4 linked regions of the Homo sapiens genome follow. The protein of the gene in region 4 purifies or fractionates together with the protein of the main gene of each other region. This does not show direct contact. Each region holds a gene or a part of one and is shown on either strand. Other genes may lie near its edges.

Evidence for each region. The genes of interacting proteins can lie anywhere in the genome.
Region 1: the proteins of RAB5B (region 4) and MAP3K11 fractionate together in Homo sapiens (co-fractionation; one large-scale study listed by BioGRID). This does not show direct contact.
Region 2: the proteins of RAB5B (region 4) and VPS4B fractionate together in Homo sapiens (co-fractionation; one large-scale study listed by BioGRID). This does not show direct contact.
Region 3: the proteins of RAB5B (region 4) and PPM1H purify together in Homo sapiens (co-immunoprecipitation; one study listed by IntAct). This does not show direct contact.

The regions. Positions count from the first base shown.
Region 1 is NC_000011.10:65,607,722-65,611,221, reverse strand, and holds part of MAP3K11 (mitogen-activated protein kinase kinase kinase 11), read left to right. Parts: intron 1-2,773; coding exon 2,774-2,954; intron 2,955-3,151; coding exon 3,152-3,300; intron 3,301-3,405; coding exon 3,406-3,500. UniProt on the Homo sapiens protein: Activates the JUN N-terminal pathway. Required for serum-stimulated cell proliferation and for mitogen and cytokine activation of MAPK14 (p38), MAPK3 (ERK) and MAPK8 (JNK1) through phosphorylation and activation of MAP2K4/MKK4 and MAP2K7/MKK7.
Region 2 is NC_000018.10:63,401,977-63,405,476, forward strand, and holds part of VPS4B (vacuolar protein sorting-associated protein 4B), read right to left. Parts: intron 3,060-3,500; exon of another isoform or gene 1,851-3,059; coding exon 1,731-1,850; exon of another isoform or gene 755-1,730; intron 1-754.
Region 3 is NC_000012.12:62,802,651-62,806,150, forward strand, and holds part of PPM1H (protein phosphatase 1H), read right to left. Parts: intron 1-3,500. UniProt on the Homo sapiens protein: Dephosphorylates CDKN1B at 'Thr-187', thus removing a signal for proteasomal degradation.
Region 4 is NC_000012.12:55,980,578-55,984,077, reverse strand, and holds part of RAB5B (ras-related protein Rab-5B), read right to left. Parts: intron 1-3,500. UniProt on the Homo sapiens protein: The small GTPases Rab are key regulators of intracellular membrane trafficking, from the formation of transport vesicles to their fusion with membranes.

The DNA of each region.
Region 1 (3,500 bases), on a different chromosome or scaffold from region 4:
TCCCCCTCCCAAGTGGGAGACCTGGCCCAGGCCTCCCAGAAAGGAGAAGTAGGGACCACGGGAGGAAAGCGGAAGAGGTGTGAGCTGCCCAGGCCACTCCCAAGCCCCACAGAGGCCAGCCCAGGGAGGGAGCTGGTGGCCAGGTCCCTATCAGAGGCCAGGGAGCCCTAAAGGGGCACTGAGAGCTTCCCCCAGTTTCGGGGTCTCTGGCCCATTCTCCTCTGGGTGACCCCTGACCTCCCATGCCTGGGATCTACATCAGACACCAGAACAGCAGTTCGAGTTGGGACAGTTGAAAGCACAGAGAGGAGCTTGGAGAGAAAGCAGAGGATGGGGCTTAGCAGCTGGCAGAGCCAGGAGCGGGGAGGTAGCAGAAAGACCACAAGTACAAAGAAGTCCTGAAACTTTGGGTGAGTTGTTGCCCCTCTCTGGGCCTCAGATTCCCCACCTGAAAAAGGTGGAGAGTGGCCACCCGGCCTGAGATACTGGAACAGCACTTTGCCAGTCTGGGGTGCCACAAGTGGCTAGAGACAGGCCAAGAAGCAGCAAGTGTTGGTCTTCAAAGGGGAAGGTGGGCCCTGGCACCAGGGGAGGTGCCCATTTCCACTCCACCCACTGCCCCAGCCTGCTGTGTTTCCCCTTTGGAATGAGCTTGTCGTCGGGGGCTTGCTAAATGCTCAGGTCCCCGCCTCCAGCAGCCAGACCAGAGGCTGTTTTGAAGTTGGCAGTAAGGAGTGACAGAGGAGGGAGAGGAGGGCGGAGATACGATAAGTGCTTTAGGACAACTGGCCTTTAGGATGCTTCTGCCAGGTGGCAGCCCCCATGCAAAAACTTTAAAAGTGTGGTCTTGTTTCATGCTCGTGACAGCCATCTGAGGAGGGTTTTGTTGTCATCCTCAGCTTGATGAAGTGTTCAGGACTCAGCTCCAAGGTCTGGCTCAGAGGAGTGGGTAGATTTTGAGACCATTCTCTGGATTAGGAAAAATTGCAGGAAAATCTACTGGGCATGCCGGGATAGTAAAGGTGGTCATGGAGGGCACCTGGACATCAGGTAGAGCTGCTGAACCAATTTGTCTGGCCTGGAGTTGCAAATGTGGAAGATGCCAGTGGGGAGAGGGAGCTGGTACCTGGAAGAGGCTGAGTCAGCCAGGGGCAGTGGGCAGAGGTTGAGGAGAGGTCATGCTCTGAGAAGCACCAGCGCCGAAATGGCTGAAGGTGGAGGACACAGAAACAGAGCCAAGCAGCCAGGGGCTGTGGGGGCTGAGGACGGTGGGGCAGCGGGGACAGCTGGCAGCAGTGCCAGATGCCTCCTCAAGGCCCAGGTGGCCTGGCCAGCAGCAGGATCAGGGCTTGTTGCTTTAAGCCCTGAAAAATGAGCACCCTGGTTCTGCCACCTCCTCTGGGAAGTCTTCCCTGACTCACCAGGCTGTATTAGGTGCCCTTCCCATCTGCCCCACCCCCTGTGCCCTATGCTGCCCCCATGACAGCCGTGTCACACAGGGCAGGAGAGCTGAGAGGTGTGCCCTGACATGGGTCCAGAAACATGGTTGACTTGATATTGCTTCTCTTCCACAGTGCAGTTGGCTGTAACCTGAAAAGTAGAGGGGCCCTTCAGACCCTTCATGACTCTATGACTTTGTCCTCTTTCTATTCCTCGAAAACTTCTCTCATTTGAGCCATTCCTGTCCTGGTGAGAGATATGCAAGTTGCTGCTTCTCCTCTTTGTACCAAGTACGGTGGCCCCATTTGGGTTAAAGCCATGAGCCCCTGCCAAGTCTGACCATCCACGCCTACATTTACCCCAAGCTCCTCCTTTGTGGCCAAGAACCATCACTTTCTTGGACCCCACCCTTTCTCTTCCCTTCCAGCTGCATTGGTAGGTATCTTTTGGAGTCTTTGCTTTGGGAGTGGCTGCACTTGCCACAGTGTGATGTGGGCACTAGGGGCCTGTGGTACCTGCTGGGCTTCTTTTCTCACCAAGAGCTTCCCTCTTGCTCCCCACTCTAAGGGGGGTTCTGATTCACGCTCCTGCCTCAACAAAATGACAGGAGACTCACAGATCTCTCTTGAAATCAAAGCCATAAATGTCCAGAGCTGCCACCTTGCCAGTTTTGCTTCAGTGTAATATTAGGGAAAAGCTAGAACACTGGTTTCAGAGCCACACAGACCAGGTTGTAATCTCTGCTGTATTTGTTGTATGACCTCTGCCAAGTCATTTCCCTGCTTGGTTTCCTCATCTGTGAAACATGAAAAATATTATTTAGCTCATAAATGGTTTTGAGTGCTGGGGTTGAGTGTGAAATGTTTGGCCTCGGCCAGGTGCAGTGGCCTGTAATCCCAGCACTTTGGGAGGCCGAGGCGGGCAGATCACCTGAGGTTGGGAGTTCGAGACCAGCCTGACCAACATGGAGAAACCCTGTCTCTACTAAAAATGCAAAATTAGTCGGGCGTGGTGGCACATGCCCATAATCCCACTACTCGGGAGGCTGGGGCAGGACAATCGCTTGAACCCAGGAGGTGGAGGTTGCAGTGAGCCAAGATCACGCCATTGCACTCCAGCCTGGGCAACAAGAGCAAAACTCTATCTTAAGAAAAAAAAAAAAGGAAAAGAAAAGAAATGTCTGACCTCAAGTAGGTCCTCAAGATCTAGACCAAGTCACCTCTGTGCCCCCAGGACCCAGCCAGGATGTCCGTCAGATGAGTTTGCTCCCAGCTCTTACCCTGTCCCCACCACCTGATCCTGGAGCATCCACAATCTGGCCCCTCTTCTCTAGTTTTGCTGCTGCAGCCCATTGAGAGTGACGACATGGAGCACAAGACCCTGAAGATCACCGACTTTGGCCTGGCCCGAGAGTGGCACAAAACCACACAAATGAGTGCCGCGGGCACCTACGCCTGGATGGCTCCTGAGGTTATCAAGGCCTCCACCTTCTCTAAGGGCAGTGACGTCTGGAGGTGCGGCCCTTGGTGGGGCTGGACGGGCTGCTACGGGGCTGCAGAGGGCAGAGGTGGCTGCCTAAATCTAGGGCTGGGCCAAGTCCAGGGACAGGGACCCAAACCACTTGGCTCCTAGTTGCTTTTGGGTGAAGTGGCAGTAAGGGGGTGGGGGTTGGGAGAGAAAAGGGAACACAGACCTGTTGTCTCGCCCACAGTTTTGGGGTGCTGCTGTGGGAACTGCTGACCGGGGAGGTGCCATACCGTGGCATTGACTGCCTTGCTGTGGCCTATGGCGTAGCTGTTAACAAGCTCACACTGCCCATCCCATCCACCTGCCCCGAGCCCTTCGCACAGCTTATGGCCGGTAAGAGGACGGGGAGGGCAGGTGAGGTACAGAGCTCCCTGGCCCAGGACACATCCACCCACGGACCCCTTCTTATTCTGTCCCCGCTGCACGCCGTGCCCCTAGACTGCTGGGCGCAGGACCCCCACCGCAGGCCCGACTTCGCCTCCATCCTGCAGCAGTTGGAGGCGCTGGAGGCACAGGTCCTACGGGAAATGCCG
Region 2 (3,500 bases), on a different chromosome or scaffold from region 4:
GAGTGAAACTCTGTCTCAAAAAAAGAAACAAAACAAAACAAAACAAAAAAAACTGCTAGGTGCAAACTATGGATGTGTACACAGTATCTGCAAAAGAATGATATGCAGATGAATAACACTGTTTCACTTAACTGTTATGAAAGCAACTGTTACTTGAATTTCATTTTCCTATTTTACATGTATACATTTACAAGTCAGTGTCTGAGTATGGTACATATACCACTGGTATAACATGAAGTACTTTTAGGTGGTATATACTTTAAATAATTTTTTAATGTGTATTGGAAAAACACTTTTTTTTCCACTTATAAAGGCACAAAGCAGTCTTTTCAATAACGTTACTAAGTAAAAATATGTGAGATGATTTAAAGTTCAAATACAGGCAAAATAATCTCTGGCGTTAGAAGTCGAGAGAGAGAGATGACCTCTCGGGAGGAATGAGGCAGAAGGCTCCTGCCAGGTCCCTGGCAATGCTGTTATTTCTGGATCTGGTTGATGACACTGGCATGCTTGCTTTGTGACAATTAAGGAAGCCCAACACCCAGGGGCTCCTGTATGTCTCTGTATATTTATGCTATACTCTAGTAAAAATGTTGTTCTAAAAAATAAGCAAAGAAAAATATTAAAAATTAGTAATGGTACACATACATGGAAAAATTCATGAAGATGATACATCAATGACTCATGTTTGAGAAAAAGTGGTATAAGTAATATACCATAAAATGAGTTCAACCATATTTTTGTGCTTTTATAGGATTATGATGTCAACTTTTATGCTGTTAAGTTTCATACTCCTGAAGTTGGGTAGTAAACTGCACCTTGAAGCTAGGCGGACAGTGCGTGGCCTACAGGCTTTTTGCTCTTCATCACTGCTCTATACGATACGACTGTCTGGACTCTTCAGTCTGAGGCCAACATTGCAGATTTGCTGTTGACATAAACCAACATGTTTGCAAAAGGAAAAACCTCTGACTGTCAGACTGTGGGTGTGGCCATATTACAGTCAAGGCTATCAGTCACAAGAAGGATAATATAAAGGAATGGTTTAGCACAGACATATCACTTACTGCTGGAACTAGAACTTGTAAGTTTCCCCAGATGGTAGGTCAGCAATATTCTCTTCACAGTGATAATGAAATGTCCTTTTGCTACTAGAGGTTATGCACTTCCTCTGAAACTGTTAAGTGATTCTTACTCCTCTTTTTAAGAAATACTCTTTAAAAATCATAACCATTGCAAAAATTCAGATGAAAGTCAAAAGTAAAAATCTCCTATAATCTTATCCCCTAGGCATATATTAATATTTCTATGTGAATCTAACTATACTTACTTCTCAGCATACACATTTAGCAAACATGGAATCATACTATTCAGTTTATAACTGCTTTTTGATCTTTGCAATAGATGTGGACATTCTTCAATAAAATACAATGCAGATTTCAATTTATTAATGTAGATGTACACTCTATTTTACTGAGTGCATAGTATTCCACTGCATGTTGGTGAATTACCCTACTGGTTGACATTTAGGTTGTTTTGCAATATATATACACTGCAAATATGGATATGTATAAGAAATAAAACATCTTGTATAAAGATATATCACCACCTTTTAACAGTCACAATTTATTTAAGATAATTCATTAGTGACAAGAATGACAATGCTTCACCTCAGTCATCAATGAACTTTTACAAACTCATGAAATAAAATTATTTAAAAGTTATGTCACCTGTAAAAAGATGAGGAAATTTAATAGGCAGTATCACAGCCTCTTTCAGTGCTTCTTTGGCTCCTTCAAGTCCAGCAACGTCACTCCATTTCACATTTGGTCGTTCTATAACAATGGCACCTGCAAAAAATTACGTTATCTTTAAATTAAGAAAGACTATTTCACCAAAGTTAGAAGACAACATGAAATAATGATGTTAAAGAAACGCATTATAAAATTGGGAAAGTTTTATGTACTAACAACCTTTTTGAAATAGCGTGAGCAGGAAGCAGGTGTTAGGGAGTAGTCAATAGGACTAGGAACCAGGTGGATGACTAGACAACCTGGGGCATGTTACTTTACCCTTCTGTTTCAGCTTCCTCACTTGTGAAATGAAAATAATACCATCTGCCCAAACTACTTAGATAGGTTGGTGCGAAAATCAAATGACATAATGAATATTAGAGTGTTTGGAAAAGCACCAAACGTTCCATAAGGTGGTTATATTTGAATACATTGATTTTGGAGTATCAAAAGTACTTGTTCTACCATTTCTCCTGTTAACCAAAAGAAAAGGTGATCTAATCCTCTCCTCAACCACTGAAAAAAAAAATATGCTTAACAAATTTAACTCAAGATAGGCAGACAGACAGAAGGGAGAAGGAAAAGGAGAGAGGAAAGGAAGGAATGGAAGCAGATGATGGGAAACCGAGAAAAGATACCCCTGCAGATTTGCAATACTTTCCTAAGATTTGCCCAAGTTTCTATTTGGCTGCTAAATAGATCTATTTACAACTTTTGTTAATTAACAAAGTTAACTTACAGGGAAGATTTAGCTTCTGAATGCAGTATATTCAAAAGCCAAAGCAATTATTGCAGTAAGAGTCCAAGAAGGATGTCTTTTAATATAGCCTACTGACAAATTTTCTAGTTCTCTTTTATCAAAAGCTTTTCTAATTTTCTAGAATATGGAAACTGTTCCACTATAAACTATGAAGCAGCCTGTTCTAAGATGACATGTAGTTAGTTGTTTTAAGTGTAACAGAACACCACCACTTATACAATCTATTACTTTATGAAATCACTGCTACTGATTGTTTCTTCTTGTTAGGAAAGATAATCTGTTACTCTAAGACTAGTTACTAGCAACTTACTTCCCTAAATTATGAAAATCTTTAGCTACTAGATTAAAATTACATGAAACCATAAGCATTTTGTATTCCAAAAGTTCAGACTACTATAAAGTAAGAAAAAAGTAAATTCATTTCGTCTTTTTTATGTTTCATTAAGATTAGTAATCCTAGGATTTCATGTCAGTTAAACAAAAATAAACTTTATTTTATATATGTATACCGTCTGACTCAAGATTTCTGCTATAAATTTTAAAAATGTGTCATGATTTGTTTTCATATATAATACTTCTAAGTTAAAAGGTGACTTTGGAATGTTTACTGATAAACAATCTCATACTAGACATGGTTTGCAAAATTAAAAAGGGGGGATGGGATTATGAAAAATGCTAACAAATGGAATGTACTTCCAATGATATAAATTTATCCGGTCTTTGACTATACTATTTACTAGTATATTACTTAATCACAAAAAATTCACTGAATAAAATTAGCTAACAGAAAACTCAAATCACAAACCGATTTTTAATTTTAACAAATATACACTTAATATCATAATCTAAAACAGAAGTAAAAGATTTAAAATACTGTTCAAAAAACAAGGAAAAATTCAAAAAAGATACAATAGTATGAAATCCAGCAGCAAACCATTAAAAAGTAG
Region 3 (3,500 bases), 6.8 Mb from region 4:
CCGCCCAGGTTCAAGCGATTCTCATGCCTCAGTCTTCTCATGCCTCAGCCTCTGGAGTAGCTGGGACTACAGGCGCGTGCCACCACACCAGGCTAATTTTTTTTTGTATTTTTAGTAGAGATGGGGTTTCACCATGTTGCCCAGGCTGGTCTCAAACTCCTGGCCTCAAGTGATCCACCCACCTTGGCCTCCTAAAGTGCTGAGATTATCCCAAAGGGCTGGGATTACAGGCGTGAGCCACCGTGCCTGGAACCTCCCATCTATTTCAACCCCAGAGTAGGTTTGATCTGGGGCCTTGGAAAAACGCCCTTTCTCAGGTTTTCCAACGGGAAATAAGTAGACCCATTTTCCCCTTTTAGAGCCCTTAAATGCTGGGATAATTGTCCCATCTTTCTTGGTCTACATCCTGAATTTTTAGAACATGTTTTCACCCTAGACAGCCAGTCTAGCCCAGGCCTCACAAGATGCAGCCAATTCAAATCTCCTCTTTATACTTCCCACCTCCCTTAGTTCTCCAGCTGATGTCACTCTCGGTCTCTCCATTCCTTCTTCTTGCCTTACAGCTACATGCAACCCGTGTTCCCTCATCTACGTTGGGTTTAGTGGCTGCTGGTGGATTTCTAGACTACTTCAAGATGAGCACTTTTGAACCCATGTTTGAATTACACACGTGTTAGATCTTAGAGAAAAGGAGCTCAATTATGACATAGCTGATAGAATAGAGAGCTCAGAAATAAACCCACACATATGTTGTCAACTAATCTTTGACAAGGGTACCAAGAATACACATTAGGGAAAGAAGAGTGTCTGCAATAAATGGTATTAGGAAAAGTGAATATCCACATGCAAAAGAATGAAATTGGGCCCTATTCTTATATCATATACAGAATCCAACTCAAAATAGCCTAAAGACTTAGATGTAAGACGTGAAATCATAAAACTCCTAGAAAAAAACATGGGGGAAAAAAACTCCTTGATATTGGTCTTGGCAATGATTATTTAGATATGATACCCAAAGCACAGGCAATGAAGCAAAAACAAACAAGTGGGACTACATTAAACTAAAATGTTTCTGCGCAGCAAAGGAAGTAATCAACAAAACCAAAAGGTAGGTAGCCTATGGCATAAGAAAAAACCCTTGCAAAGCATGTGTGTGATAAGGGGTTAATTTTCAAAATACACAAGAAACTCCTACAATTCTATTGCAAACAAAACAAAACAAGCAAGCCGATGAAAAAATGGGCAAAGGGCTTGAAGAGACATTTCATCAAAGATGACATAAAATAAATGGCCAGCAGGCTTGTGAAAAGATGCTCACCATCGATACCTTTCATAAAACTCAGTGAACTGAAATTAAGGACCTTCCCCAACCAGATAAGGGGCATCTAGGGAAAACCTTTAGCTCATATCATATTTCATGGTGAAATACTGCATGCTTTCCCATAACACTGGGCAAAACAAAAAAAGTATGCTCTCACTACTTCTATTCAATATGATACTGGAAGGTTCTAGATAGGCAAGAAAAAAGAAAAGGCCTAAAGATTGTATAAGAAAATAGCTGGGCACAGTGGCTCACGCCTGTAATCCCAGCTACTCAGAAAGTTGAAATGGGAGAATCCCTTGAATCGAGGAGAAGGAGGCTGCAACAGGCCAAGATCTTGCCACTGTATTCCAGCTGGGGTGACAGAGTGACCCTGTCTCAAAAAAAAAAGATTGTTTAAGAAAATAAAGTTGCATTTATCCTGGCTTTGAGCAATTTGAGCATGATGTACCTTAGTGTCATTTTCTTCATGTTTCATGTGCTTGGAGTTTGTCTTTCTAGATCTGTGGACTTACAGTTATTTCATATGATTTAGAAAAATTTCACCCATTATTTCTTAAAAAAAATTTTTTTTGGTATCCTTCTCTCTTTTCTCCTTGGAAGAATCTAATTACACCTGTAGTAGTCCCTAGAGGTTGTCCCATAGCTCATTAAGGATGCTTTCATTTTTTTAATGCTTCATTTTGGTTAATTTCTTTTTTTTTCTTTTTTTTTTTTTTTTTGAGACGGAGTCTCGCTCTGTCGCCCAGGCTGGAGTGCAGTGGCGGGATCTCGGCTCACTGCAAGCTCCGCCTCCCAGGTTCACGCCATTCTCCTGCCTCAGCCTCCCAAGTAGCTGGGACTACAGGCGCCCGCCACTACGCCCGGCTAATTTTTTGTATTTTTAGTAGAGACGGGGTTTCACCGTTTTAGCTGGGATGGTCTCGATCTCCTGACCTCGTGATCCGCCCGCCTCGGCCTCCCAAAGTGCTGGGATTACAGGCCTGAGCCACCGCGCCCGGCCCATTTTGGTTAATTTCTACTGCAATGTATTAAACTCACTTTTTAAAAATCTTTTTGTTTTTTATTAAAAAACGGACAAAGGATCTGAATAGACATTTCTCAAATAAAGATAAGCAAGTGGCTAACAAGTATATGAAAACATGCTCAAAATCAATAATCATCAGGAAAATGCAAATCAAAACCACAATGAGATAGCACCTCACACCTGTTAGGATCGCTATTATCAAAAAAACGAGACAAGTGTTAGTGAGGATGTGTAGAAAAAGGAAACTTCTGTCCTGTCAGTGGGAATGTAAATTGGTACAGCCATTACAGAAAACAGTATGGAGGTTCCTCAAAAAATTAAAAATAGAACCATCATATAAAGCAATTTTACTGCTGGTTATATAACAAAAGGAAATGAAATCAGTATCTATAGCCCAACGTTCATTGCAGCATTATTCACAACAGCCAAGACACTGAAACAACCTTAGCATCCATCAACAGATGAATGGTAAAGAAAATGTGGTGTATATTATTTACATACAATAAGATATTATTCAGCCACAAAAAGAAGGAAATTCTGCCATTTGCAACAACATGAATGAACCTGGAGGGCATTATGCTAAGTGAAATAAACCAGACACAGAAAGACAAATACCACTTGATCTCATATGTGGAATCTAAAAAAGAGTCAAACTCGTAGAAGCAGAGAGTCGAATGGTGGTTGCCAGGGGCTGGGGTTGAGGAAAGTGGGGAGATAATGGTCAAAAGGTACAAAGTTTCAGGTATAAAATGAGTAAGTTCTGGGGATCGAATGTACAGTATGGTGACTTTAGTTAGTAACACTGTACTGTATACTTGAAATTACCTGAGAGAGTAGATTTTAAGTGTCCTCACCACAAACACACAAAAACTGGTAACTATGTAAGGGAATGGATGTATTAACTTGATTGTGGCAGTCATTTCACAATGCACCCGTATATCAAATCATGCACACCTTAAATACATGATTTCTGTCAATCATACCTCAATAAAACTGGGAGAAATAAAACATTACATTTGAAAAAATGTAACTAGAGGGGTAGGATATAAAACACTAAGAAAAATAAATATTTGGGATCTCTATTTTCAGAAAATTGGTGGACAAAGAGGTAAGGTATGGATATAACATCTACTTCTGACTAGCTGGCTTATC
Region 4 (3,500 bases):
CACACTCCAGCCTGGGTAACAGAGCAAGACTCCACCTGGGGTGGGTAGGGGGGAGATCGGGGGCAGGGAAGAAGCCACAATATGAAAGTGGTACAGAGAAAGAAAAAGAGAAAAAACAGGCCTGGCAGAGCGGCCCATGCCTGTAATCCCAGGGGTTTGGGAGATAAAAGGGGAAGCCTTGCTTGAGGTGAGGAGTTTGAGACCAGCCTAGGCAACATAGCGAGACTGAGTCTCTAGAAAACATTTAAAAAAATTAGCTGGGCATGGTGGTATGTGCCTGTAATCCCAGCTACTCCAGAGGCTGTGGTGGGAGAATCACTGGAGCCCAGGAGTTGAAGGTTGTAGTGAGCTGATTACACCACTGCACTCCAGCCTGGGCGACAGAACAAGACGCTATCTCTGGAAAAAAAAAAAAAAAAAAAAGGAGACATAACTAAAGGGTAAAGAGGAAGTTAGCAAAAGAATGAGAGGTGAGAACTCAAGGTCCCAAAGTAGACTAGATTAATACAGAGGAACATGACAATTACTTTGATTCTACTGGGTATTCTGTAGTCCCCTTGGTCAGTCAGTCTTAAAAATTCAGATATACATGTACCATTTTATGATTAAGTTTTCAATGGCCTATGACGAAAGGATCAAAATAAAGATGATACAGCAAATTTTTCATAAAGCTAAATTTATTCAATTTAAATGAGTATCTTTAATTATAACATTTTAAAATTTATTTTCCATTTTTAGAGAGAGTCTCACTCTGGTGTTTGAGAGGTCAGGAGTTTGAGACCAGCCTGGCCAACATATAGTGAAACCCCGTCTCTACTAAAAAATACAAAAATTAGCTGGGTGTAGCGCCACATGCCTGTAGTCCCAGCTACTTGGGAAGCTGAGGCAGGAGAATCGCTTGAACCCAGAGGGCGGAGGTTGCAGTGAGCTGAGATTATGCCACTGTACTCCAGCCTGGGCAACAGAGCAAGACTCCGTCTCTCAAAATAAAAAATAAATAAAAGAGAAGACAGGTGACACCATAATAAAAAAAAAAGGACAGATGATAAGCTGATCAAGTTTCCTTCAGGTGACATATATATGCTATACTCTCAAGAAACAATAGAAAAAGTTACTGGTTTTTTCAACTTACTCCCTTACATTTTTATGTATTTCAAAGCATGTGATCCAAGGGGTAGAATATTAAGCCTCAATGTTACTACTCTACAATAAAGGAAAATGTGGGAGTTAGAATGGACTGAATTCTCATGGCTAAACATATCACTTGAGCTCTGGGGGAGTGTAAAGACAGGAAACAATTGCAGACACGCTTGAGTTGCAAAGTCTCTGTCACTAACTCTCAGAGATGGGAAGTCAAGCCAGAGCCCAGATGTGGTCAGCAAGCTTTCTTGCTACTAAGCAACCTTGGATTCTCAGAGATCAGTAACTACTGACTTAGAAAAGACTACCTCGTACCCTAATATGTAGCCTTAAGAGTATGTTCTGGCTGCACATCATGGTTCACGCCTGTAATACCAGCATTTTGGGAGGCCAAGGCAGGAGGATCACTTGAGCCCAGGAGTTTGAGACCAGCCTGGGCAACATAGTGAGATCCCACCTCTGAAAAAGAAAGAATATGTCCTGCCTTCCTCCCTGTTCACAGCAATTGTTGAGCCACCTCTAAGCTTTGATCTTTAATCTTATCATGTTTATAAGGGTATCATTTAAAAAATATAATAGCTAGACTCTCAAAAATTCTGTGGTACAGAAATGAAATAATACATATAAGATTCAATTATTTATTTTCTATTCTCATTTTTTCCCACAAAAATACTAATTTTTTTTTTTTTTTTTGGTAAACCAGTCAAGTGGTATGATGATTATTACCTTCAAACCCGAGACAAAAAAAAGGGAGATGGGGCAGGTTTCTCTTCCTTTCAACCTTTTTAGCTCAGAAGAGAAGAAATCAGATTTAACTTCCCTTAGAAGTGCAGCTCTGCCGGGTGCAGTGACTCATGCCTGAAATCCCAGCACTTTGGGAGGCTGAGGTGGGCGGATCACCTAAGGTCAGGAATTCAACACCAGTCTGGCGAACATGGTGAAACCCCGTCTCTATTAAAAACACAAAAATTAGCCAGGTGTGGTGGCTGACACCTGTAATCTCAGCTACTTGGGAGGCTGAAGCAGGAGAATTGCTTGAACCTGGGAGGCAGAGGCTGCAGTGGGTCGAGACTTTGCCACTGCACTCCAGCCTGGGTGACAGAGCAAGACTCCATCAAAAAAAAAAAAAAAGAAGTACGGCTCTACAAGAATGACTTATAAAATGACCCATTAACTAGGGAGGATTGAGGCCTGACCATGGGTTAGCCCACTAGATGCAGGAGACCCATGGAGGATGTTCTTTAATGTGGGCAACTCTCCCAAGCAGTGCAGCAAAGTAGGCATAACAGTAAAAGTGTCTTAGCAGTCCCAGCTAGAGTAAGACTCCATTCCTCAAGCCCCCTTCCACTTGTTAGCTTTGAGTCCCTAAACCAAATACATATGAAGTCTCCAGAAGTCTATCACCTATCAACAGAGACAGAGTTCTCGGTATATATAGCCACTGGAGTCCAACCCAGTACCAGTTGTCAGCCTTAAGGTCAGTCAGGCAGATCAGAGCCAGTCTAGAGGTCATTTAGTCCAGTCTCTATATTTTATAGGTGAGGAAACCGAGACACATACAATTAGTCAATTTGGGCTAGGCGTGGTGGCTTACACCTGTAATCCTAGCACTTTGGGAGGGCGAGATGGGCAGATCACCTGAGGTCAGGAGTTTGAGACCAGCCTGGCCAACGTGGTGAAAACCTGTCTCTACTAAAAATACAAAAATTAGCTGGGTGTGGTGGTGCGTGCCTGTAATCCCAGCTACTCAGGAGGCTGAGGCACGAGAATTGCTTGAACCTGGGAGGCAGAGGTAGCAGTGAGCCGAGATCACACGACTGCACTCCAGCCTGGACAACAGAGCGATTCCGTCTCAAAAATAAATAAATAGCCCCATCCCTTCCCCGGCTCCCCCGGTGTCCGCCATGGCCAAAGCCTACGACCACCTCTTCAAGTTGCTGCTGATCGGGGACTCGGGGGTGGGCAAGACTTGTCTGATCATTCGCTTTGCAGAGGACAACTTCAACAACACTTACATCTCCACCATCGGAATTGATTTCAAGATCCGCACTGTGGATATAGAGGGGAAGAAGATCAAACTACAAGTCTGGGACACAGCTGGCCAAGAGCGGTTCAAGACAATAACTACTGCCTACTACCGTGGAGCCATGGGCATTATCCTAGCATACGACATCACGGATGAGAAATCTTTCGAGAATATTCAGAACTGGATGAAAAGCATCATGGAGAATGCCTCAGCTGGGGTGGAGCACCTCTTGCTAGGGAACAAATGTGACATGGAGGCCAAGAGGAAGGTGCAGAAGGAGCAGGCCGATAAGTTGGCTCGAGAGCATGGAATCCGATTTTTCGAAACTAGTGCT